2 separate regions of the Homo sapiens genome follow, and region 1 is linked to region 2. The links come from fine-mapping of genetic effects on gene expression. A gene starts in region 2. The other region holds a variant in brackets. All regions are shown on one strand. Distances are between the middles of the regions.

What was found.
Region 1: its variant is fine-mapped to the expression of AKIRIN2 in whole blood (INTERVAL, PIP 0.96).

Annotation. Positions count from the first base shown.
Region 1 is chr6:87,531,834-87,539,833 of GRCh38, reverse strand. All of the region lies in intron 8 of RARS2 (arginyl-tRNA synthetase 2, mitochondrial), which reads left to right. Among named protein-coding and RNA genes, the nearest start is that of RARS2, 54 kb to the left of the region's middle. The variant AC/C (reference allele first, on the strand shown) is at 4,157.
Region 2 is chr6:87,691,918-87,709,108 of GRCh38, reverse strand. It overlaps AKIRIN2 (akirin 2), which reads left to right and starts at 6,876. Exons shown (of 5, transcript NM_018064.4): 1 at 6,876-7,659. The coding sequence starts at 7,425. RefSeq lists enhancers at 3,360-3,479, 6,305-6,614, 6,925-6,984, 10,101-10,620 and silencers at 7,145-7,314, 7,495-7,704.

The sequences.
Region 1 (8,000 bases), 160 kb after region 2:
TTCCCCGGTGCCACAAAGAAATAGCACTTGAACATAAATTTAATTATCTCAGCAAGGCCATTTTTACTCTCTGCAGAAAGGGTACACTCGCCAGCAGTTTTGCCACGAGAGTATACCGAACAAAGGAGACAGGGTCATTTATAACTTGACACATCCACCTTACTGCTGTGTCTGGTTTCCATTGGCTGGAACGGAACCTCACATTCTGTATTTGTCCCGATTGGCTAGCAACTTTAACTTTTCAAAAGAGGCAAAGGCAGGGGAGAACAAAGGAAGCAGGAAGTAACTTGTGAAATGCTGAGAAAGGTAAAAACACCTCCAAATAAGGAAGAGGAACAGGCTGTCACCTAATGCTTGCTTGGACCAATGTAAGCATGCCAAGGCAGATATTTAGGCTAAATTGTAGGAGCTAAGAACACAAAGTATATTGATTTCTTTATTACGGCTAGCAGATATTTAAGGATGTTATGACAGGTCTTTGAATAAATTTTACTTCTAAGAGAAGTCACTATTTGTCCTTAATTAGACGGGGAGGAAAGTGTCTTTGAAGGGGAACCTCTACTTCACTTTTTACACAGAGACACCCCATGTTGCAGAAAATACAAATACCTGCTTGGAGACCTTGTGTCATTGATTTAGAGTGCAGCATGACATGTGAGAGTTATTCTTTTTATCTTTCTTCTTCCCCACCTCAAAAGTTTTTATTTAATCTTGCAAATAGTAAACCTTTGTCTTCTATGACATTTTATTTTTATCTTTTATTTATTTATTTATTCATTTATTTATTTATTTATTTATGTGAGACAGGATCTTACTCTGTTGCCCAGCCTGGAATATAGTGGCACAATCACGGCTCACTGCAGCCTTGACCTCCCAGGCTCAGGTGATTCTCCCACCTCAGCAACCCAAGTAGCTAGGACTACAAGCACACACCAGCACACCCAACTAATTTTTTGATTTTTTATAGAGACAGGGTCTCCCTATGTTGCCCAGGCTGGTCTCAAACTCTTGGGCTCAAACAGTCCTCCTGCCTCAAACTCCCAAAGTGCTGGGATTATAGGTGTGAGCCACCACACCCAACCTATTTTTTAATTTTTTAAATAACAATAGGGTCTTGCTATGCTGTCCAGGCAGGTCTCAAACTCCTAGCTTCAAGTGATCCTCCCACCTCAGCCTCCCAAAGTATTGGAATTACAGACATGAGCCACTGTGCCTAGCCATATATAGGTGTAGGTTTTGTGGGTTTTTTTGTGGAGGTGAAGTCTCACTGTTGCTGAGGCTGTACAATATTTTAAATATTTCAGGGGAATCTGTCTTCAAACTCCACAGAAACCTAAGAATATATTTCTTTCTATGCAGTTTAATATAATTTCCTGCCTTTAGAGACTCAAAAATAGTGGAAGATCAACATCTATGTTAGAGGTTATTTACTGATGGGTACACATATGGAAGGAATAAGGGCAATAAGGTACTTCTGTGAATAACTAAAAAGTCGAATAATAATGGTGTTGCTTTCATTAGTGTTCTTTTGCCGAATAGATTCACTGGGAAACTGCATTTAAAGACAAAAGAAGGCAAGATACACCCACTTTGCTATTTGTAATAGACGACAAGACCATTAGAGTATTCAGTTGCTCTTTTCCTTCTCCTTTTGCAGGACAGAAAATATGCAAAGCCTAAAATGGCAGCCTACAGGTTATTATATATGCAAATTTTATAGACTCTGTTTTCATTTTAAAATTACATTTGTCACTTTGGATTACTTTCAAAAACAACTGTTAGCATAAATGAGGAATTTTTTTGAGCTTTAAGCAAATGTTGATGTTATTCTGTTTCTAAAAGAAAATCTGAATGTCAACAACTCAATTTATTTAATAATTGAAAGATGCCTTTGCTTGCCCTGCAATGTCACAAATAGCGTAGGTGGTAATACAGAGACTCTGCCCCATCGTTATTTCTGGTCACCAGAAAGGTGACCAGAAAGTCAGAGATCGTGATTCTATGCTTGGAAAGTGCTTGGTGTATTGGTAAATAATGTTGGCTGATTTATTCGAAGGAAAACTTTAAGATAATCTGCATTTACTCTTTCTTATTTGTGAAAATCTGTTTTCTCAAAGCTTTGATGGAACCCTTGTTTTTTTTCCATATCAAGTTGTAGTTAGTAGTGAGCTCTTTGAGAGGAAGGACCATGTCTTCCTTACCTTCCTTATCCACAACCCTAAATATTATGGCTTGCAGTAAATGCCTGAATGAATTTGCTTTTATAGTTCTCTTTTGCCCCCTTTTCTAATTATATATAATTTGTGGAATATAAAATGTATTGTTTGTCCAGGAAATAAGTAACTATTATAGGATACACTAATTACCATTTGTCAGAATTTAACTTACTTTGTTAACATAGTTTACTGCAGAGGAAACCACAGGCCAAACCCAGGATTCCGGCACAGGTAGTCTGGCTCCTGAGTGCTCTATGCAGTGAATGTCCCCACACCCCCACTATAGAATGGCTTTATGAACCATTGATTTCCATTGGTTTAATTATGTACATAGAATTTTCCTTTCTTTCATCCCTTGAGTTGCTATACCAGGGACACAATTAGTAGTTTAGTTTTGGCACTTTCAACCTTCTGGCATATTTGTTTTGAATTTGGCATAGGCCATCCAGTAGCAGATTTTATGGCCTGCCTTCCTCTAAATTGAACTATGATCAGTATTCTCTAAATTGCACTATAATCAGTATTAGTATATTCAGTTTCTCAGCTAGCTTGGAAATGATATTGTATGATAGTTTCAGAATTTCTTTGATGAAAATATTTAACACCCACAGTCATTTATTGCATTTCCATTTTGGTGCATATGCTTCACTAGTGGTTTTTCTCTGTACCTTATAGCATTCTTTTCCCATGACATCTAGCTGTTTTGTACGTGGGACCTAGGATTTTGTTGGCAAGCATTTGAAACTTTTTCTTTAATTATTCTAATTTGGTTTTTTTGGTTACAAAACAGGGAAGTAGTTTTGTTATAGTTCCTCTTCCCTTGTGAATTGGCTGTTAAATAACTAATATATTTTTTTTATTTAGAATTCACATTAGTGATTCAGGAAAACATTTGCAATAAGCTTTAGACAATATATCAAAAAGCCTTTCCACTTATATTGAAAAGTAATTTCTTTTTTTTTCTTTCTTTTTTTTTTTTTCGTGATGGGGTCTTGCCCTGTTGCCCAGGCTGGAGTGCAGTGGCGTGATCTCAGCTCACTGCAACCTCTGCCTCCCGGGTTCAAATGATTCTCCTGCCTCAGCCTCCTGAGTAGCTGGGATTACAGGTGTGCACTACCACGCCCAGCTAATTTTTTTGTATTTTTGCTAGAGACGGGGTTTCACCATGTTGGCCAGGCTGGTCTCAAACTCCTGACCTTGTGATCCGCCCACCTTGGCCTCACAAAATGCTGGGATTACAGGTGTGAGCCACCACGCCCAGGCAAAAAGTAATTTCTTATGGTAAAAGTTAACAAGTGTTAAATCTGAATCATGGATATGAGGGTGTCATCATTTACTTTTACCTATTTAAATAATACTTTTAAAGGTAACTTATCAGGCTTCCTTTTAGATTTAAATTATTTGAATAGACTTTATTATCTAACAGTATCTCTAAGCATATTAACCTTTTTTTTTGCTATAGAAGGTTTTATTAATAGAACTTGACTCATTGCATATTGCCTATTAATATGGCTTTTGTAACCATAGCCATTCTTATGAAATGTAAGGGCAGCCTCTTATAAGAGATAAATATCATGCCAATAAAATATGGATTAGCCTGTATCCTAGCACTGACATTAAAAAAGGTTACATAGGCCAGGTGCAGTGGCTCACACCTGCAATCCTAGCACTTTGGGAGGCTGAGGCAGGTGGATTGCCTGAGCTCAAAAGTTTGAGACCAGCCTCAGCAACGTGGCAAAACTGCATCTCTACTTAAAAAAAAAAATACAAATAATTAGCTGGGCATGGTGATGCATGCTTGTAATCCCAGCTACTCAGGAGGCCGAGGGACGAGAATCGCTTGAACCCAGGAGGTGGAGGTTGCAGTGAGCTGAGATCACACCACTGCACTCCAGCCTGGGCAACAGAGCGAGACTCTGTCTCAAAAAAAAAAAAAAAAA[AC/C]AAAACAGTTACATAATAACACAAATAGTATAAAAATTTCTTTAAGTTCAAAATGGCCTCCAAAGGTTCTATTTCAGTATTTCTACCTTGCCCCTTTCTAGCAGGATTTAAGGTAATTACAGTGATGGGCATTTAATAAAAGAAAAATAGTGAGGGGTTAGTGTATCACTAGATAATTTACGTAATAGTTTTGACCCTGAGCTTCCCCATATCAGTAGGCAAAAAAAAATTTTTTTAAATAGGACAAGATCAAAGCACCGATTCAATGAGTGATAATGTTTACTTGCTCTCATTTTTAAAAACATGGAATTAGTATCTATTCCTCAAGACACAATGTTTTTCCTAACTTTAGAGTCTCCAATTTCTCAACTTTAAGTAAATAATTCAAGACTAAATTCTCATCATATGTAGGGATATTTATGCAGTTGAAGTTTTTATTTTATGAAAAATTGCGTTCAAGATTTCATCATTGTTTTAAGTTACATTTCTTTTTCCAGGGAATGTTACTGTTATGGCTAGTATGAATTTTGTTCCTTAATAACATTTATATGTAAGAAATAGTTTTTAAATGATAAGAAAATCTGATTCCAGCTATCACTTGTAAGAGTCAGTGTAAGTCATTGAATTTCCCACCTACTAAATCATGCAAAGTTCCCCAGGCTCTTATGTGTCTCCTAGGACAGTCCTAGAGGACTCTTCTTGTCTTCAGTGCACACTGGTCTCTTACATGTTTAGTATCCCAGCCTGTGTGATGCTTGGAGGCATGCAGCTCTTCTTGTGTGACAAACATTAGCTGGTGGTCCTTGCCCTGTCCACAGGTCTAGAGACAAGATCGCTATGTAGACACACCGTGAACCATTTCCCACTGTGGGCCTGCACCACCCCAGGGGCTTCCTAGCTTCTGCTCTTCTGGAAGTCTTCCCCATCTCCTCCCCATTCCAGGTAATTCTCCTTTCCTCTATCCTGGCAGTTTCTCCACTTGGCCATTGCTCCCTGCTGTCCCTTCCCAACACTGCTTGCTTTTCTACTCTCTCTCTGCTTATTTGGGACAGCACTACAGTGTGTCATTGTCCTCTTAGTCTTCCTCTTAGAATGAGTTTTGAAATACCTAGCAAGAACAAAGTACACATTAATAGCTGAGTAAATATCTGACACCATTGAAATGTGCAAAAAATACTTTTATCAGCATGAGAAATGTTAACATTTATTAGGTGCTTGTGTGTGGTGCTCTACAAGGAGTTAATAATTATCATCCCTGAATAAAGATGTAAGATATAATGAATGTGGTTATGTATATACATAGAGTAAAAGTAGGAGATTCTAAATATGAAAAGATTAATGGAAGGTGAAATACAGTTTATATCCTACTACTAATGTATTAAGGAGGAGAAATTTGATAACTCATGAAATAGCTCAAGTTAGTTATTTTTTTACCTACCACATTTTGGCTTTATTATTAACTGTTTGCAGTATTGATACATTCAATTTTAATTATATAAACACATTTGAATGTCTTTAATTTTTCATTTCATGTTCGGAATCAACTAGCAGCTAAGAAATTTCTGATCAGTGAAACAGCATTAAACATAATGAAGTTGTTCAAATTATAATCATGAATATTTTTACATGTTCTTTTCTAAACTAGGTAAAAATTCAGTGCATTTTAAGATGACATAAATATATGAAAAAAGGGTCTGTGGTTTCTAAGTTTTGCTAACCATCCTTAGCAGTTATTCTCAGTATTTCTAAGATAAGCATGGCTAGAAGTGGGGTTAGAGCCCCACATCAAGGAGTTAAACTGTGCCCATGTGGCTAATGGTATTCTAGGATCAAATTTAAAGGGATAAGAAAGGCTTATCATACTACTTTTAATTTTCATGCTTAGTTCTTTATATTTGGGCAGATCAGCCCAAGAGCTTACTGTAATTATCTGAGTTAAATTCAAAATAAAATGTTACGCTATTTGGCAGGCCCAACATCTAGAAATAGTGAAAAGGGAATGTTAATTTTTTTTAAGGAAGTCTGAGACATTTAGTTTATTCCCTAAAGGAAACACAACTGGTTTTTGTGTTTTCTTCTAAGAGAAAAATTGTGTTTCCATCCTCAAAAACTTTACTAAGCCATGCTGCCTTATTATGAAGCCCAAATTTAAAATTGCCTTTTTATCTCTTTGTGTCTAAATTTAGCCTTAAAAGGAAGATATCTTCAAAATGCGTACTTTCCAAGGGTTAATTAAAAAGGTACATGGTAACTGTTTAGTTTTATATTGTGCATTTATAGGTATATTGGGAAGTGCTTATTAAAGCTCTTCTCTTTGATAGTGTCAGTTGATTTTCACTAATGTTTGTTTTATAAGTACATATTGCGGAAATACTAAGAATATTCACGTTTTAAGGGCTTTTTGTTTTAATTATTTCTATTTTTTAAGAAAGAGAAGATTCTGGTGAAGTTTTTTCTAAAATAGTCATATCATAATGCATAATAGATTTTTAAATGTTTGGTTATTTGAGTTTAAAGTCCTAGATTTAAAAACAAAGAAACTTCACCCTGAAGAAAGGCTTTATGAAAAAAAAAAGAAACTAAACTCTTTTGTGAAAATAAAGACATTTTGCATGTGTTTGCTTATAACTTGTGTGCACATGTATGTATGTGTGTGAGATAGAATCAGAAACCACTTGTGAATATATATTTATGTTTTTAACATCTGTATACTGGACCGTTAAGCAGTTGTCAATGGCTGTGTCATTCAAAAGTCAAGAAGTCCGCAGTTTACTATCTTATGGGGACCCTTTTTGTTTTCCCATACTTTACCAAAGTCTTCTTTGTTTTCTAACTGACATTGTATGTGTTGTTCTGGACTTACTAATAGGACTACATAAACATCACCTTTTTATGATGTGTCAGGTATCCTAAGACCACTCCTCCCCCCGATTCTGTGATTCACGCAGAGGACTCACAGAACTCAGCATAGTCTTACTTGTGGCTATGATTTATTACAGTGAAGGGATACAAAGCAAAATCAGCAGAGGGAAAAGGCATATATGGGGTAAAGTCCAGAGGAAACCAGGCTTTCCAGACTCCCAAATTTTCCCAGTGGAGTCACACAAGGTGCACATACTTCCAGCAGCAAATTATGAGAATACATGTGAAATGTCCACTGGCAAAAGTTCATTAGATACCCTGTGTCCAAGGTTTTTATTGAGAGTTGGTCATGTAGGTACCCTCTGCTTAGAATGTCCTAAATCCCAAACTCCCAGAAGGAAAGCAGAAGTTCAGCCTAAGCTGTACTGTTTGCATCCACAGTGTAGGCACAATGACCACTTTTATCAGTTAAGTTGGTGGAGACATTCCCAAAAATCTAAGTTAATAGATGCCAGCCAGTGGCCAACCTTGCAAGCAGGATGTTTTAAATATAACAGTATCAGACCTGCTAGTTAACTCTTTTCTAGGGGGAAAAAAAAAGGTAATTTTAACTTTATTTAGCAGTATTTATTTATTTAAGTCTGTCATTCCAGTAATTAACATAGATCATCTATGAAAGGTGAAACGTTTTTACCTTGAGAGATGTTTAATGCCCTGTCCCATTTGTTGGTAGTATCTAGTGGGTATAAGCCAATGTGTCCTCCAGCAATAAAATCATTTTTTCCTATCCAAATACTGCTGTCCGGATGTTTTGATAATAACATTGTAAGGGTTTAGAAGCCTTATTTTTTCATAGTTTATTCACCAATTTTTATTGCTTTCATGAGACTTTAATAGCTTTCTGGAAATAATATAGTAAAGTTATCATTGATGTTTCAACCTGCAGGTGAGTTACAATTTGTAAATATTTGTCCATATGTA
Region 2 (17,191 bases):
GTCTTTATAGCAGCATGACTTATAATCCTTTGGGTATATACCCAGAAATGGGATGGCTGGGTCAAATGGTATTTCTAGTTCTAGATCCCTGAGGAATCGCCACACTGTCTTCCACAATGGTTGAACTAGTTTACAGTCCCACCAACAGTGTAAAAGTGTTCCTATTTCTCCATATCCTCTCCAGCACCTGTTGTTTCCTGACTTTTTAATGATTGCCATTCTAACTGGTGTGAGATGGTATCTCATTGTGGTTTTGATTTGCATTTCTCTGATGGCCGGGCAGAATATTTTCTAATATCATGTTTGTTACACATTTTTTGAACTGCATACTAAACATAGTTTGTGCTTTTCTTGATGATTCATGGTCACTGTCTTGTGCTCCTTACTTAGGGTTGCCAGATAAAATACAGGGTACCCAGTAAAATCTGGATTTCAGCTAAATACATGCAATATTTGTGACTTTCTTAAAAAATAGAGATAGGGTCTCACTATATTGCCCAGGCTGGTCTGAAACTCCTGGCGCAAGCAATACTCTTGCCTCAGTCTCCCAAAGTGTTGGGGTCACAGGCATGGGCCACTGCATTCCAGCCTGTGACATATTTATACTAACAAATTATTCCTTGTTAATCTGAAATTCAAACTGAATTTGAATTTGGGCATCTTATATTTTTGTTAAATCTGGCAACCCTACCACTGTTATATATGATATTATAATAATACAAGGGAGCCTCAGCTGCAGTTGAGCCGCGGTAGGGCTAATTGTCCTGACAGGGAGGTGTCTCAACGTTGTTGTTCTTTTTCAATTCTGTAGTTATTTTTGACAGTCTCTTTTATTGCTATCCAATGATTCTACTGCTTGTTGTAGCCAGTGTATAGCACCTTTAATTCTCTTTTCTCTCTCCTAGTATATTCTTCCAGTTGGTTTGGACTGGAAAATAAGATCCCCAAGCACATTTGAATTTTCTGTCAAGTTAAGAGTAAACAGTTTTTGAAGAAGGGTGCAGGTACTTGAGGGCACATACTTAAGAAAAGTATGCAAATTTAAAAATAAGGACTTCGGCCGGGCGCGGTGGCTCACGCCTGTAATCCCAGCACTTTGGGAGGCCGAGGCGGGCGGATCACGAGGTCAGGAGATCGAGACCATCCCGGCTAAAAACGGTGAAACCCCGTCTCTACTAAAAATACAAAAAATTAGCCGGGCGTAGTGGCGGGCGCCTGTAGTCCCAGCTACTTGGGAGGCTGAGGCAGGAGAATGGCGTGAACCCGGGAGGTGGAGCTTGCAATGAGCCGAGATCCCGCCACTGCACTCCAGCCTGGGCGACAGAGCGAGACTCCGTCTCAAAAAAAAAAAAAAAATAAATAAAAAATAAAAAAAAAAAAATAAAAATAAGGACTTCATAATATCTTAATGTGACTGCCAGAGATTATCCTGTAATTTCTTTTCAACGTTCCTCAGGCTAAGTGAATCATGGTTTATTTCCTGGAGTGCATAGGGCATTGTATAAGGAGAACTCAGTCGCTGATGAAGAGGTGAAAGCTATATTAGGTTGGTGCAAAAGTAATTAAAAGTAATGGCAAAAACTGTAATTACTTTTGCGCCAACTGAATTGATAAAATAATTTGCAATTGTGTTTTTTACACTTGAACGGGATGCTGAATGTTCTTGACAATCTTTGGGGAGAGTCAGATACTGGTCTGGCTTGAGTAGTTAACAGGTAATCTTGCCTTGAGACTGGATCGCACTAGGTGACCTCTTGAAATAACTGGCAGATATATGGTTCTGCTTACTCTGTGATCTACCCAATCGACTCAAAATAATGACCACATCCAAAATTATGAAAACTGAAAAATTAGTCAGTATCATATCTACAACAGAAAGTACTGTGTATTCCAAATATGGTGCTTAGAAGAGATTTGGGCCAGCTTGCAAAATCTTATGCAGAAGGAATTACAATGTCTCTTCTTCCCTAACTGCACTCATTTACACAACGATTAAACAATTTTTCTGCCCTAGACAATCCTTGTTCTGAATATAGATTTGAAGTGGCTCCTGAATTAGAACTGCCGTTCCTAATGCTGAGCCTATGATTATTCAAACTCAGTATGAGAAGTCAGCAAACACCTCCCCACACCTTATATATTTGCATTTATCTTTATTTGACATCAGAAAAAAATTGTTTGAAAATGATTTAATATAAGCAGACAATCTTCAGGCTCAGGATGATGAGGTCTTATGTTACCCAGCTATGTCTACTTTTATTGGCTTTAGTCAAAGAATGACTCATCAGAATCAGATCCTGGAGAATATTTTGGGAGGTGTTAGGAAAGTCTAATACCAAGCAAGACCAGTATCTTGGTAAAATAGTTTAATTTTCTTCAGAGGCTTCTGAGATTGTACAAATCAGAAAATACTTGCTAGGTCATGGTAAAACTATTCTAAATATGTTAAACCTTTAAAACTTGTTACAGGCTTTTTAGTTACAACAAGAGCAATTCTGGTCTGTGTAGGTCACTGGAGCCATTAGCTGTACAGTATATTTAGATTCATGTGACCTGATTCAACTTATTAATGTGTTAAATATAGTTTTCTTTTTCTTATTTTTTCTTTCCTTTTTTCTTTTTCTTTTTTTAAACATTTTTATTTTTTGTAGATATGGGGGTCTTGCTATGTTGCCCAGGCTGGTCTCGAACTCCTGACCTCCTCCCTGCCTTGGCCTCCCAAAGTGCTGGGACTACAGGCATGAGTCACTGCCCTCAGCTCTTTTTCCTCTTTAGTACTTCCTTCCCCCCGTCTCCCATCTTAAGGTCTGCTGTCTTTTTCTTCTTGATCAACAAAATAAATTCATTTTTCAAATATATTGTGGTGGCTTACACTTGTAATCCCAGCACTTTGGGAAGCCGAGGTGGGAGGATGGCTTCAGGCCTGGAGTTCAAGACCAACCTGGGCAATGTACTGAGACCCTGTCTCTACAAAAAATTTAAAAATTAGCTGGGTATGGTAGTGCAAGGTTGTAGTCCTAGCTACTTGGGAGGCTGAGGCAGGAGGATCACTTGAGTCCAGGAGGTCGAGGCAGCAGTGTGCCTTGATTGTGTCACTGCACCCCAGCCTGGGTGACAGACCAAGTCCCTGTCTCTAAAAAATAAAAGTAAAATATACTATGTCATGACTTACGGCTTTTAAGTATTATCTTTATTTTCAAGTTTAGCCTAATAAATACTTTTGTAGGTTTTTTTTTTTCAACAGCTTCCTTCTACTCTAAAAGGGTTGCTATAGTATTTTAGCAGATCTATAAAGGAACAAGGATAATGTGGGCTACTGGGGATAGTGTGATAAAAAATGTTTAAGAAATATTCAGTGGACATTTACTGAAGCGTGCAAGGTATTATACTATTGGTAAGGAGCTAACACAATGACAGGAGAGGCAGATTCATGAACAGAATTTTATTGCAGTGTGGTGAGGATAATGATGAAAATATGCAGATAGGTGTCTCTTTCTCTGTGAGGCTATAAAACTAACTTGGCTTTGAAACACTGCGGAGGGCTTCCTGGAGGAGTTAATGCCTGGCTTGAGTCTTAAAATATAAGTAGTCAGGCAAGAAGTGTGGAGCAGAGAGCCTAAGCAAAGACATAGGTGAATAGGGAAGGGTCTCCCTTGTCTTTTTAGTTTCTGAAGTAGCTTCCTGAGTCATTGGTAGAAGGGGAGGCACCCCAGCCCTGTCACTGTTTAATCTTGACAGCCTTTTGCAAATATACTGTGCAGCGGTGACCACACAGGCAACTATTATGACTAAACTATCAAGTTTACCAGATATCCCCCACCACCTTTAAGTACAACAACACTTTGCTGACTGGGTGCAGTGGCTCGGCCTGTAATGCTAGTCTGTAATGCTAGCCTGTAATGCTAGTGGGAGGATCACTTGAGGCCAGGAGTTTGAGACCATCCTCGGCAACTTAGACCTCTGTCTCCACAATTAAACAAAAAAATACTTTCCTCATTTTCTAGGCATTCTGGTATATTTCAAATGATAGCCTGATAACCACAATCCTCTCTGTATTAGTTTCTTACAGTTGCCATAACAAAGTACCACAAACTGGATGGCTTAACCTACAGAAATTTATTGTCTCATGGTCTAGAGAATACAACTCTGAGAAGGTGTTTTCAGGGTTGGTTCCTTCTGAGGACTGAGGGAGAACAACTTCTCTCCTAGCTTCTGGTGTTTTGCTGGCAATCTTTGGCATTCCTTGGCTTGTAGAAGCATCACCCTAATCTCTATTTTCATGTTCATGTTCATGTGGGTCAAAATTCCCTTGGGCCCATGCCTGGGTTCAAATTCCCACCCCCACCCAGTCTCCCCTTCACCCTGGCCTTTTTTTCTTTTCTTTTTTTTTTTTTTTTTTTTGAGACAGGGTCTGGCTATGACACCCTGGCCGGAGTGTGGTGGTGTGATTACAGCTTACTGCAGCCTCAACCTTCTGGGCTCATGCAATCCTCTCACCTCAGCTGCCCCGAGTAGCTGGGACCACAGGTGACCACCACCATGCCTAGTTAATTTTTTAAAAATTTTTGTAGAGATGAGGTTTCTTATCATTGCCCAGGCTAGCCTCAAACTCCTGGCCTCAAGTGATCCTCCCACCTCGGCCTTCCAAAGTGCTGGGATTACAGGTGTGAGCCACCGCACCTGGCCCAAATTTCCTTTTTTGTATAAGAATACCAGTCATATTGGATTAGGGGCCCATCCTACTACATTTAGCTAATTACATTTGAAATAATCCTATTCCTAAGTAAAGTCATATTCTAAGGTACTGGAGGTTAGGACTTCATATGAATTTTGAAGTCCTTGAATTCCCTCAAACATAGGGAATTTAACTCACAACATCACATTTCAAATGTAGGTTTTATAACTTATGGGCAAATCTTAATTTCAGAAAATATTACCAAGTGTTTAGAATTTACTAGAAATTTACCTAGTAGGTGTCTTAGTTAAGCTGCTGTTTCATTAAATGCTTATCTTTTTCAAAAGATTTTCCAAATGTAGGAAATGTAGGATATTTCCAAATATCCTAAATTAAAACTAGAAGGGCTTACTTGTTGACACAGTGTGATCAGGACTGCTGATCTCTGAAGCACTGGACAATTCTATAAAATTGTCTATAAAAAAGAATATATTGAACTACTTCTAAATATGGTTTAAAAATAATAGACAAAATGGCTATAAAACATCTGTTACTGAATAAAGAAGAATACATGAGCACTGGAAATCAGTATTTATAATCATTTGACAGTTGGCATTCACAAAATTGTTTCATATTGCACTGGTGATAGTTTCTACATATATCACTTTTTTTTTTTTTTTTTTTTTTTGAGACGAAGTCTAGCTCTGTCACCCAGGCTGGAGTGCAGTAGCTTGATCTTGGCTCACTGCAACCTCCGCCTCCCGGGTTCAAGCGATTCTTCTGCCTCAGCCTCCTGAGTAGCTGGGACTATAGGTGTGCGCCACCACGCCCGGCTAATTTTTTTTATTTTTAGTAGAGACAGGGTATCACCATGTTGAACAGGCTGGTCTCGAACTCCTGACCTCGTGATCCGCCTGCCTCGGCCTCCCAGTGCTGGGATTACAGGCGTTAGCCACCGCGCCCGGCATCATTTTCTTTTCTTTTCATTTTTTTCAGACAGAGACTCGCTCTATCACCCAGGCTGGAGTGCAGTGGCAACATCTCGGCTCACTGCAACCTTCGCCTCCCGGGTTCAAATGATTCTCCTGTCTTAGCCTCCCGAGTAGCTGCGACTACAGGCGCGCGCCACCACGCTCGGCTAATTTTGTATTTTTAGTAGAGACGGGGTTTCACCATTTTGACCAGGCTGGTCTCGAACTCCTGACCTCAGGAAGATCCGCCTGCCTCGGCCTCCCAAAGTGCTGGGATAACAGGCGTGAGTCACCATGCCCGGCTACACAGATCACTTTCTAAATTAGCGCTGTATTTGATTCTTATTTTAGGTATGTGACTAAAAGTACAACTTCTAGAAACACTTTTTTCCCCTTCCGCTTACAAAATGGATCCATCCAATATCTATTACCTAAACATTTCACTGTCTTTTGATTAGTTTTGTAACAAAGTTCACAATATATGCACCAATATTCAACAGAAGTAATGCAATGTCTGATACCACTTGCTTTTTACCCAACGCAAAACAATTTGATTCTGTAAGTCGTTCAAGTCCTATTCATTTACAGAAGCAAAGCTGGCTTTACAGAATTTCATTAGTGGATGAAGCAGCTACCTCCGAAGGGTAGAGCATCGAGTTGAATCAAGGATCCTGTAACCTGATACTATTACTGTTGTTCTGTCTGCCAGTCCTAAATAGGTTTCATAATCTCATTATCTCCTATCCTCTCCATGTGAAAGGTCTTGTTTTGGGTACTGTCGCTACCGAAATTAAGCTAACTTTGACTAGAGATTGGTTTATTATATTTCCCAGATCTGAAATCACTGTGGGAGCAACTATACGGAGAATCTTAAAAGATTTCTATGTCGCTTAGCCTGCTTTTGCCACGGGTTCGCTTTCCCATCTCCCACTGTCTCAGAACCTTCTCTTTTTTTCTCTTTTGCTTAGTTCCTCTTACACTCAAGCTGTGTAGGGGGATTTAAATTCCAACCCGGAACTCGGAATCGCGCGCCTTGCATGACGGAAGTCGTAGTTTCTGTGACTCCTCCCTTCCCGCCTTTCAAGCCGATTCCTCCCGGTACCTAAAAACTACAACTCCCAAAATGCATCCCCGGTTTGGCCCGCCCCCGTGCGCAAGCGCTCTGAGGCCGCCGGATTTGAATCGGCGGCGTTGTTATTGACGCCATATTGGGGCCGGCGGCGGGTGGGAGAGTTCTACGAGGGAGGGGAAGCGGTTGGACGTGTTCGCTTGGGTTCCTGCTGCGGCAGCTACCTCGCAATCTCTCTGCATCGATCGCCGCTCGCAAGCTACTGACCGTACTCGGGCGTATTAGGAGCCGCGTTCCAGCCTCACACCCCACGGTGCTGTTTTCGACTTCAGAAAGGATCTAGTCTCAGCACAGAAGCGCCTCAGGCGCGGCGCAAAGCTCGAGCGGACGGCGGGGGCGGCCGGAGCCTCTCTCGGGGGAGCCGCGCCTGAGGAGGCGGAAGAACCCCCCTGACGCGACTGGCGTGTGCTTCTGCCCGCCACCGCCCCTCCCGCTCTCACCCGGGCCGTCCCTGGCCACTGCCCCTGCCGCGGAGGCAGCGGCGGCAGCGGCTCTCCTTTCCACAGCCGGCGCTCCGCGACCCGCTTGGCTCCTGAGCCCGTCGGGTAGGCTCTCCTCGAGTTCCCGCTCTTCACCCCTTCCCTCACCCTCTTCTTTCGTCACCCGTCCCCGACCCCACCCGAGCCCGGCGCCTCAGCTGCCCCCGGCCATGGCGTGCGGAGCCACTCTGAAAAGGACTCTGGATTTCGACCCGCTGTTGAGCCCGGCGTCCCCGAAGCGCAGGCGATGTGCGCCATTGTCGGCGCCCACCTCGGCCGCTGCCTCCCCGTTGTCGGCGGCCGCGGCCACCGCCGCCTCCTTCTCCGCTGCGGCCGCCTCGCCGCAGAAGTATCTCCGAATGGAGCCATCCCCCTTCGGCGACGTCTCCTCCCGCCTCACCACAGGTGGGACCCGGCCCCGCGGCCGCCGGGGTAGTGGAGAGAACTGGGAACAGGGGTCCTGGGGTGTGGGATGCGGCCCCTGGGGTGGGGGTGCCGGACTGTGTGGTTCTTGTTCTTAGCAAAGTAGTAGGGCAGCCACGTTTTTCACTAGGTCCTCGTAGCCCGAGGACCTAATAAGACACAATAGAAATGGGCTGATGTCAAGGGGATAGTGTTTGGAGGTGGGTAGGGGCTTTGCCTTGCCCGTATTGGGTAGAACAGGGACATCTTTTTCTTTGGGCCGAATGATTGGAATTGTTTCCGTAGTCGCTGGAGCCCCAGCGGAAATGATCAGAGAGGACGATATTATTCGTAAATTTAGGCGAAAGGGTCACATTTCACCCCAATCTGGATGTGTGCTTGCCGTAATCGATTGGTTGCAGCTATTAACTCTGGGACTGGGTGGTTTGAGGCGAGGCTACAGCCCCTCCTTCAGTTCAGACACGGCTGATTTTAGTATAGTGGGGGTGGGGGGTGGGGGATGGATGTCACTAGGGCGAGATCTAGGCCTGTCATTAATCACCCACAAGAACGCCACTTTGGCTGAGTCAAGACCTGTTTCCCTAGCAGGGTCAACAACAAAGAAAATGCTCTTCCCGAGTACTGTAATATGATCACACTATAAGTCTAGACCTTGAGAAATGTTGAACTTTTAATAAGCATATTGCATTGAAAATTGGGGCTGAGGAGTTGCTTTTATTTGGAAATGTTTTATTTTTGCCCAACAAAGTATGCTGGGGGAAAACAACCTAGCCTTGAGAATAATGAAGAAATCAACCCAAGATTCCAAGGGACTTCAGACTTTTGCTTTTCATCTTGAAACATTTCCTGAGAGAGACTGGGGAATGTCTTTTGGCTGCTTTGTAGGGCATGTGTATGCCCAGTTTTTTCTGTACTTTGAAATCCTTGTGTGCCCCTGGCACAATCCTAGGATAGGCTTTTGTGGACTAGAAGTGTAAATGTTTCCTTTGTGTGTAGCATGCAAAGATTTCTGTGTGAGCCTTTAGTAATAATATCACCCTTTAGACAAAGCCTTTCCATAGCTTGATTTAAATGTCTCGTTATCAGTAGCTTAAAAAACCGAAGTATATACCTCTGTATTTGGTGACTTCCATTTGAAACTGACTTTAGTGTTTTTTTTTTTTTGTCACATTTAAAAATATTTTCTAAATCCATGGAGTGACCCTCGAATATGCAAGCTACCATTTTTGCTATTAAATATTTGGTCTAATTTAAGGACATACTGTTTTAGAGTTGTAGTGAGTTTTTACGGAAATTCTTAGATAAATTTATTTAATGACCTTACTAAACTGTGTTTTAATTAGATTGAAAAGGCATTTGTTGATTAATTGTTAGGCTTTACTTTGGGAAAAAAAAAAGGAAACAGCCAATGTCAAGAATGAGCTACTGGTGGTTGACATTTTTGGAATTTGTCTTTTAGTGAAATGGTATCATTGGAAATTGAAATGGATTCTGTACTTAACTAATAAAGCCATTTCAAAATAAGGTCATTAAGGAGCTAACCAGCAATACATTTCAGTCGAGGGAGTGAATTAATACAGTGCTAGGTTTGGGAATTAAAGTACTATATCTCAATGTCAAAATAATCTTGGGCATGTATGTGAACAATTGGGGACTATACCATGTTCCTCCCCTTTAAAGCACACTTATTCAGAATTGTGATCCTTTGTAAACGACTTTTCATTGGCATATCTGTAGCGTTGGTTAATACAGTTGGCTCCACATTATCTCAAGTTTAAATTAATTGGACTGTTGTAGTAAAACGACTGGAATTATTGGAATTGTTTAAGCCAGCTGATTGAGATTCACATTCACTTTCCAAAATACTGCTATTTTCTTCAAGGTGTTTTTTTTTTGACATCTACTTTGGAAGTTTGATTATATCCTGAAACCTAAAATCACATCCTTATTGATTCTGAGTCTGCTAAAAGTTATTTCCAAACTAATTTGAATATTATCGCAAAAAGTTTACTTGAGAAAACAAGTTGAAATTGAAATTTTGACTTGCTAAAATTACATTTTTTAAACGGTAGTTTTGAATGACATTCTAAATGTAATTTAGTTTGACTTTGTGTTTATATGGCCAATTTGGGGTATGGTCCTGTATGTTTTTTGTAATGTCATAATGGGAGCTGCAGTGTTGTGCAGGTATCAAAGAGCTTCCCAGTTTTCATGTTAGTAAACTTGGAAATAATTTTCTCATGCACCTGATTTTTAGCTTCCTATTTTAACACCGATTATTCTTAAACTTTATGGGAGTAAATACCCATCTGTCATTAACTAAAATGAGTAGTTAGGTTTGGAAGTAGACAGTGGCTTACCAAATTGAGATTGGCAAACTTGTGGGAACTCTTTGTTTTCCTTTCACATCTGTGAGTTCAAATATAATACAAATTAATGTAGAACTAGAGTACTAAAGTGACTTTTTTTCAGAGCATGTATACACTTTATTTTATCATTGTTCTCCTCTAGATACTTTCAGTTTCTGATGGCATAGCTGAAGTCATGTTGTGGCTTTATTAGTTTCAGGAACTTGGATGTCTGTTTTAAACCTTAGCTATCATTTTAGTCATCCCAGGAAGTTTGACTTGACTATTCTTATTTAAATATTTTTCAAACTGTTGCAACTTAATACTAGGAAAAAGGAAGGACTAGCTGAGCTGACGGAAGTTAAGCTTGCTTTCTTAACCGCAAGGCTTAGAGCCTTTATTATGCTAATTGGCATTATGAATTTTTTAGGGACTCCTTAACACACAGCTATCCCAAACCTGTTTTTTAGGACACCTAAGTGTTACTAATTCAGAAATGCTGTTCAGGGTCTAGGGATGGTTGACAAAGTATAGCCATATTTTTGTGTAGCCTGAGAGCTAAGAATGTTCTTTACATTTTTTAAATGGTTGGAAAAGAATCAAAAGAATTATTTTGTGACACGTGAGAATTATGTGAAATTCAAATTTCAGTGTCCATAAATAAAATTTTATTGGAACACAGCTGTGCTCATTCTTTTTTTTTTTTTTTTAAGTATTGTTCATTGCAGGTGACGATGGCAGAGTTTAATAGTTGTCACACACAGTATATTGCCCCGAAAACTCCATATTTGCTCTCTGGTGTTTACAGAAAAAGTTTGCTTACCCTCATGTGGGGTGTCAGCAGTGAGGTTTATAATACCCCTGGGTATGGAAAAGGAAAAGTGATCAGTGGAAGTAAGGGGAGGGGGAGCAGAAGCATTGAATATCGTTGGTGAAATGAATGCCTCTAGTAGCTGCATCAATACTTACCCTGGTAAGTTAGTTGAAAACCAAAGTATGCTTTACTATTGGTTTTTGAAACATCTCATAATACTACCATTTAGCCAAAAGATTGTCATGACATTCCCAAGAAAGAATTTTAATAAAACCAAAATATTGCAACATTATAAGAGACCGTCAATCAAATCCAGCACATTGTTTTCATTATGTAGTGAATGAATGGTCTGAAGATACCCTTCTGTGAATGTTAATGTATTTGTGAGTTTGTTAGGCACATTAATTCACATTGTTTATGGCTTGGTACCATTAATCTGCCTTAGGAATTGAATTCTGTGAAGAGTTAAGTTCCTTTGTAAGAACTCATTGTACTTGCTGGAAACTTGCCATTAAAAATGGAAACTGCAGCTTGTGAATGGGGAAGGGTTTACAGGAACATAGATTGTTCACCAGACATTGATGCATGCCTGCAAACGGAGACACCAGCTGGCTTCAATGAAATATAAATGGTTCTAGGCGAACAAATGAGACGTCTGTTGGAGGAGGCAGCATCTCTCTTCAGATGTCATTTACATTGAGCCAGAAGTATTTTTTAATATTTTGTGGTTATTTAGACAGCTGTTAAGTTGCTCCTAGTTTCTCACTGGATTTGGCAAATAAATGTTTTTAATGGTCTTTGTACTTTGAGTCTTAAACCTGATATTCTATTTAGGACTGTGTATGTAGCTGCAGTTACTGCATATTTCTGTGATTTATGCATTTAAGAATCCTGTAAGTTTATGGCCATTAAAAACTGCAGTTGTATTCATTACTAATATAGAGCTTTTTTTTTTTTTTTTTCTTGAGACAAAGTCTTACTCAGGCTGGAGTGCAGTGGCATGATCTCAACTCATTGCAACCTCCATCTCCTGGGTTCAAGCGATTCTCGAGCCTCAGCCTCTGGAGTAGCTGGGATTACAGGCGTGCGCCACCACACCTGGCTGATTTTGTTTTGTATTTTTAGTAGAGATGGGGTTTCACCATGTTGGCATGGCTGGTCTTGAACTCCTGACTTCAGGTGGTCCAACTGCCTTGGCCTCACACAGTGCTGGGATTATAGGTGTGAGCCTGTGCCGCCGGCTTTTTTTTTGTTCGTTTGTTTTGAGACGGAGTCTCACTCTGTCGCCTAGGCTAGAGTGCAGTGGCGCAATCTCAGCTCACTGCAACCTCCACCTCCTAGTTTCAAGAGATTCTCCTGCCTCAGCCTCCTGAGTAGCCGGGATTACAGGCGCACACCACCACGCCCGGCTAATTTTTGTATTTTTAGAAGAGATGGGGTTTCACCATGTTGGTCAGGTTGGTCTTGAACTCCTCACCTCATGATCCACCTGCCTCAGCCTCCCAAAGTGCTGGGATTACAGGCGTGAGCCACCGCGCCTGGCCTCCCTGGCTTTTTTTTTTTTTTTTTTGGATGGAGTCTCACTCTGTCCCCCAGGCTGGAGTGCAGTGGCACAATCTCGGCTCACTGCAAGCTCTGCCTCCCGGGTTCACGCCATTCTCCTGCCTCAGCCTACCAAGTAGTTGGGACTACAGGTGCCCGCCACCATGCCTGGCTAATATTTTGTATTTTTAGTAGAGATGGGGTTTCACCGTATTAGCCAGGATGGTCTCGATCTTCTGGCCTCATGATCTGCCCGTCTCAGCCTCCCAAAGTGCTGGGATTACAGACGTGAGCCACTGCGCCCAGCTCCCGGCTTTTTTATTAAGGTAGGAAAATAAAGCCTAACTTGAGCACAGCAACACATAGGCTAAACATGGCTAGATTAGAGGTTAGCCCCTCTTTAGGTGTGGAAGGTACTATTCACTATGGTTGCCACGGAGACATAACCTGAGATGTAAAGGAGAATAATATAAATTTCTTCAGTTTTTTAATGGCTTTATTGGAAAAAGAATGTAGTACATACTAATCGGGTCTTTGTTTTGTTTTTGTTTTCTGAGACAGTCTTGCTCTGTCCCAGGCTGGAGTGCAGCAGCACAATCTCGGCTCACTGCAATCTGCCTCCTGGGCTCAAATGATCCCCCTGCCTCAGCCTCTCAAGTACCTGGAGATACAGGCATGTGCCACCATGCCCAGCTAATTTTTGTATTTTTTTGTAGAGATGGGGTTTCACCATGTTGCCCAGGCTGGTTTCAAACTCCTGGGGCTCAAGCAATCTGCCCGCTTCAGCCTCCCAAAGTGCTGGGATTACAGATTTGAGCCACTGTGCCCGGCAGGTTTTTTCTGCTAAGTGTTTTGATAGATCTAGAAAGACAGTGATAGAAAGCTTTCGTTTTGAAAGATTGAGAATAAAAGCTTCAGTGGAAGTGCCCAGTTGTGAGTATCTTTCCTATTTGAAAAGAGATTTTTCTCTTTATAAAAGAAGAATGTGAAGTAATAGCATGGGTTAAGTTTGGGCCTCTTGAATAGTTGGTTCATGAAACTAGATAATGGTATTAGGAGTGGGAGTAGGTATTTTCAAGTACCTATCACTGAATTAGTTAACCAGCAATTTGTAGTCTCTGTAGTCCTTGTGTTAACCCTATGCCTAGCACTGTTGATTCAAAGAACGTTCTCTATATATGTGAAACTACAGGGAATTTCTTGCCTTTGAGAGCACCGCCTGCTTTTAAAAAGGTATGAGAGAAAATATTTATTTAAGCCTATACAAAACTATCAGGCATCTTAAGTCTTGACATTTCCCAAGGTTCTTAGAGTTGCTATGGTTGGAAAAAAATGTAATTTCAGTTTTACCCTGTAATTCTGTACCAAATTTTCTTTTTAGACTGTTCTATGACATTGTCATAATGTGTAACATTTTTGACAAAAAATGTGACTCCAACGAGTCGTAATAAATACTGCAATTAGTTTAAGACTTTGAATAATACTTTTCTGAGGAACTTTAAGTATATTTCTCTCTTCATTTTTCTGGATAATGATGAGAACATGGATTACATGAATTACAATATTTTAAGTAGCCCCATGTATAAGAATTTTTCTATTATCAGGTATTTGCTCATTGGAAGAAACATTTTAAAGGGTTTCACAGGATTTTTAGAAGAAAATACTTTTTAATAAGAAGTTGTGATTTATTTCCAAAGAAATTGAATTATTTGTTATAGCAAGTTTCTCACATGAGATGATATTGTATCTATATTAAGCAGGGAATCCCTGCAGGTAATTTAAAATTCTAGTGGATGTTAGTTTTTCAGCTTTGATATTTATTTTGGGCCTATTAATCAGAATTTTACAGTATAATAGATTTTGTAATATTTTTGGTGATGAGGATTTTACAGTATAACAATTTTTGTAATATTTCTTGTGATGGTAGGCTTTGTTGGGTGGTAAACTTTCTAGCACTAAGAAAGCAGCTCATAATAATATACTTTTAGTTTGTCTTGGGGTGTAGCTTTTTTTCCCTTTAGTTTTTATCTGTCACAAGTGTCACAGGCAGATCATCTTGAGATGTACTAGTGGCTATTGTGATTTTATTAACATTGTAATCTTTCCATTAAATACAACTTCTGGATTTGACTTTTTAGGTCTTTTGATGTACCTGGATTTCTTAACATTATTAAAACATTTAAATTCTTCTTCTAGAAGTCACTTGTTCGAACCCTTATGAACCTCATTTGAGTTCTAGATACTGCACTGGCTAGGCAAAGAAGAGTAAGAGTCTCTCTTGAGAGACTGATGATAGAGCAGCCACTGTTGATACTTTATTAGCTAGCACTTTATGCTTTATCAGTATACCTATTTTCATTTCTTATTAATATTTTTCCACATTAGTATTCATTTCCCCTTTGATAGCCTAAATATTGAAATTGGTTTACTGATTAAATCACTTTTGAAACAGTTTTTTTCCTTAAAGTGTTAAGGCTTGTTTACTAAGTTTCTGAAATTGTGTCAGTATATGATGTGTATTCTCACTTTGGTTAGCATTCATTTTCATTTCTGTTAATGTTAATTCTTGTAAAACTCCCTCAAAAAAATCAAACTAGTTGGAATGGTTTGAGAGAGGGACTTGGATTTTTCTTTTGTTTATTTTTGTTGAACTGATGAGTAAATGAAGAGTAGAATGTACAGTGAAGTTTGAAGAAAGCCAATTTTTCAAACATTACTGTCCCCCTGAACTGTGCCTTTTAATTATGATAGGAGATTGTCTTGTTCCTCCTACTAAAATATGATTATCTAGAAGAACTTTTCTAAGTGGTATACTTGATTTAAAGTATAGAAGATTTTAGTTGCTATGATAGAGAGGGGGACTTGATGTTCACTGTGACAATCTTTCATAGCCCAGGGTAAAATAGTGCATTATCAGAGCCTGGCATTGTAATTAGTTGTACATGTGTGGAAATACTGACCTATCAACTTGGAATAATTCTTCACTTTTTTTTTTTTTTTTTTGAGACAGAGTCACAGTCTGTCGCCCAGGCTGGAGTGCAGTGGCGCAATCTCAGCTCACTGCAACCTCTGCCTCCTGGGGTCAAGCGATTCTCCTGCCTTAGCCTCCTGAGTAACTGGGATTACAGGTGCGCACTGCCACACCTGGCTAATTGTATTTTTAGTAGAGACAGGGTTTCACCATGTTGGTCAGGCTGATCTTGAACTCCTGACCTCGTGATCCGCCCGTCTGGGCCTGCCACAGTGCTGGGATTACAGGCGTGAGCCACCGCGCCCGGCCATTTCTTAACTTTTAAAACACCAATAAAGCATTCTGGCTAGATATAAATACCTGTCCTAAGATGAGGCATTTTAGAGTCTTGAAGCATCCCTTATATACATTTCTGGATGTAACATGAAGAGGTGTTACAATTTTTTTTTATAGCTAGTCATTGCTGTTTCAGGGGTCTCATTAGATGAGAGTTATGCTTCATTTTGGTTATTGCCTTTTTCTTTTTTTGAGATGGAGTCTCACTCTGTCGCCCAGGTTGGAGTGCAGTGGCGCAGTCTCCGCTCACTGCAACCTCTGCCTTCTGGGTTCAAGTGATTCTCCTGCCTCAGCCTCCCGAGTAGCTGGGACCACAGGTGCCCACCATCATACCCGGCTACTTTTTTGTATTTTTAGTAGAGATGAGGTTTCACCATGTTAGCCAGGATGGTCTTGATCTCCTGACCTCGTTGATCCGACCACCACAGCCTCCCAAAGTGCTGGGATTACAGGCGTGAGCCACTGCGCCCGACCAGTTATTGCCTTCTTGACAATCCCATTTTTTGAAGTTTCAGTGTATGAAAGTATAAATTATGCATAGTACTGATGTCTATTCTAACTCCTGTTTTCTAAAAATTAACTTTCCTCGTTGTGATATTTATTTATTTTTGAGACAAGAGTCTTACTCTGTCACCCAGGCTGGAGTGCAGTGGCACGATCTCGGCTCACTGCAATCTGCCTCCTGGGTTCAAGCGATTCTCCTGCCTTAGCCTTCTGAGTAGCGGGGATTACAGGCGTGCGCCGCCACACCCAGCTAATTTTTGTATTTTTAGTAGAGACAGGGTTTTGCCATGTTGGCCAAGCTGGTCTTGAACTCCTGACCTCAGGTGATCTGCCCACCTCTGTCTCCCAAAGTGCTGGGATTACAGGCATGAGCCACCGCGCCCAGCCCATTGTGATTTATTTTAACATTAAATGCTAATAGAATTTTGATTAAGTGTAGTAATGTACTACTGGAGAGGGTAGTAGATGTTAAGAACTTGGGCCCTGAGGTCAAACCTGGCTCTGCCATGTTCAAGCCGTGTGACATTGCAGAAGACACTGAAGCAGAGCCTCATTTTTCTCATCTCAGGAAATGTGCACATGATGATAGTAGCATATGCCTCTTAGGGTTGTGAGAATTAAGAGCATTTACTGGCCAAGTGATGGAAATGGTCTCAAGAAGGCAACCTCAAATGGGACTTTTACTCACCAGCAAGTTTGCCTTTCAGTGACTAAGCCTGCCTTCTACAAAAGAGTTGCCATCAAATCACAGTTTTTTCATTGTTTTTAGTACCAGCACTACTGACATTTGAGCCTGTCCTGTTCTAGTATCATCGAGGATTAAACAATTATTAAAGCACTGTATATAGTGAGGGAAAGATTCCACTTTTCTCCAAAGTAACTTTATCCTCTTGATTATTCCATTTCTTCTCTCAATTGGATCTTTGCTTTTGGCTTTATATATTCACAAGCCTTCCATGAGAAAGTAAAAGAACAAAACATACTCATTTTCCTCCAGCT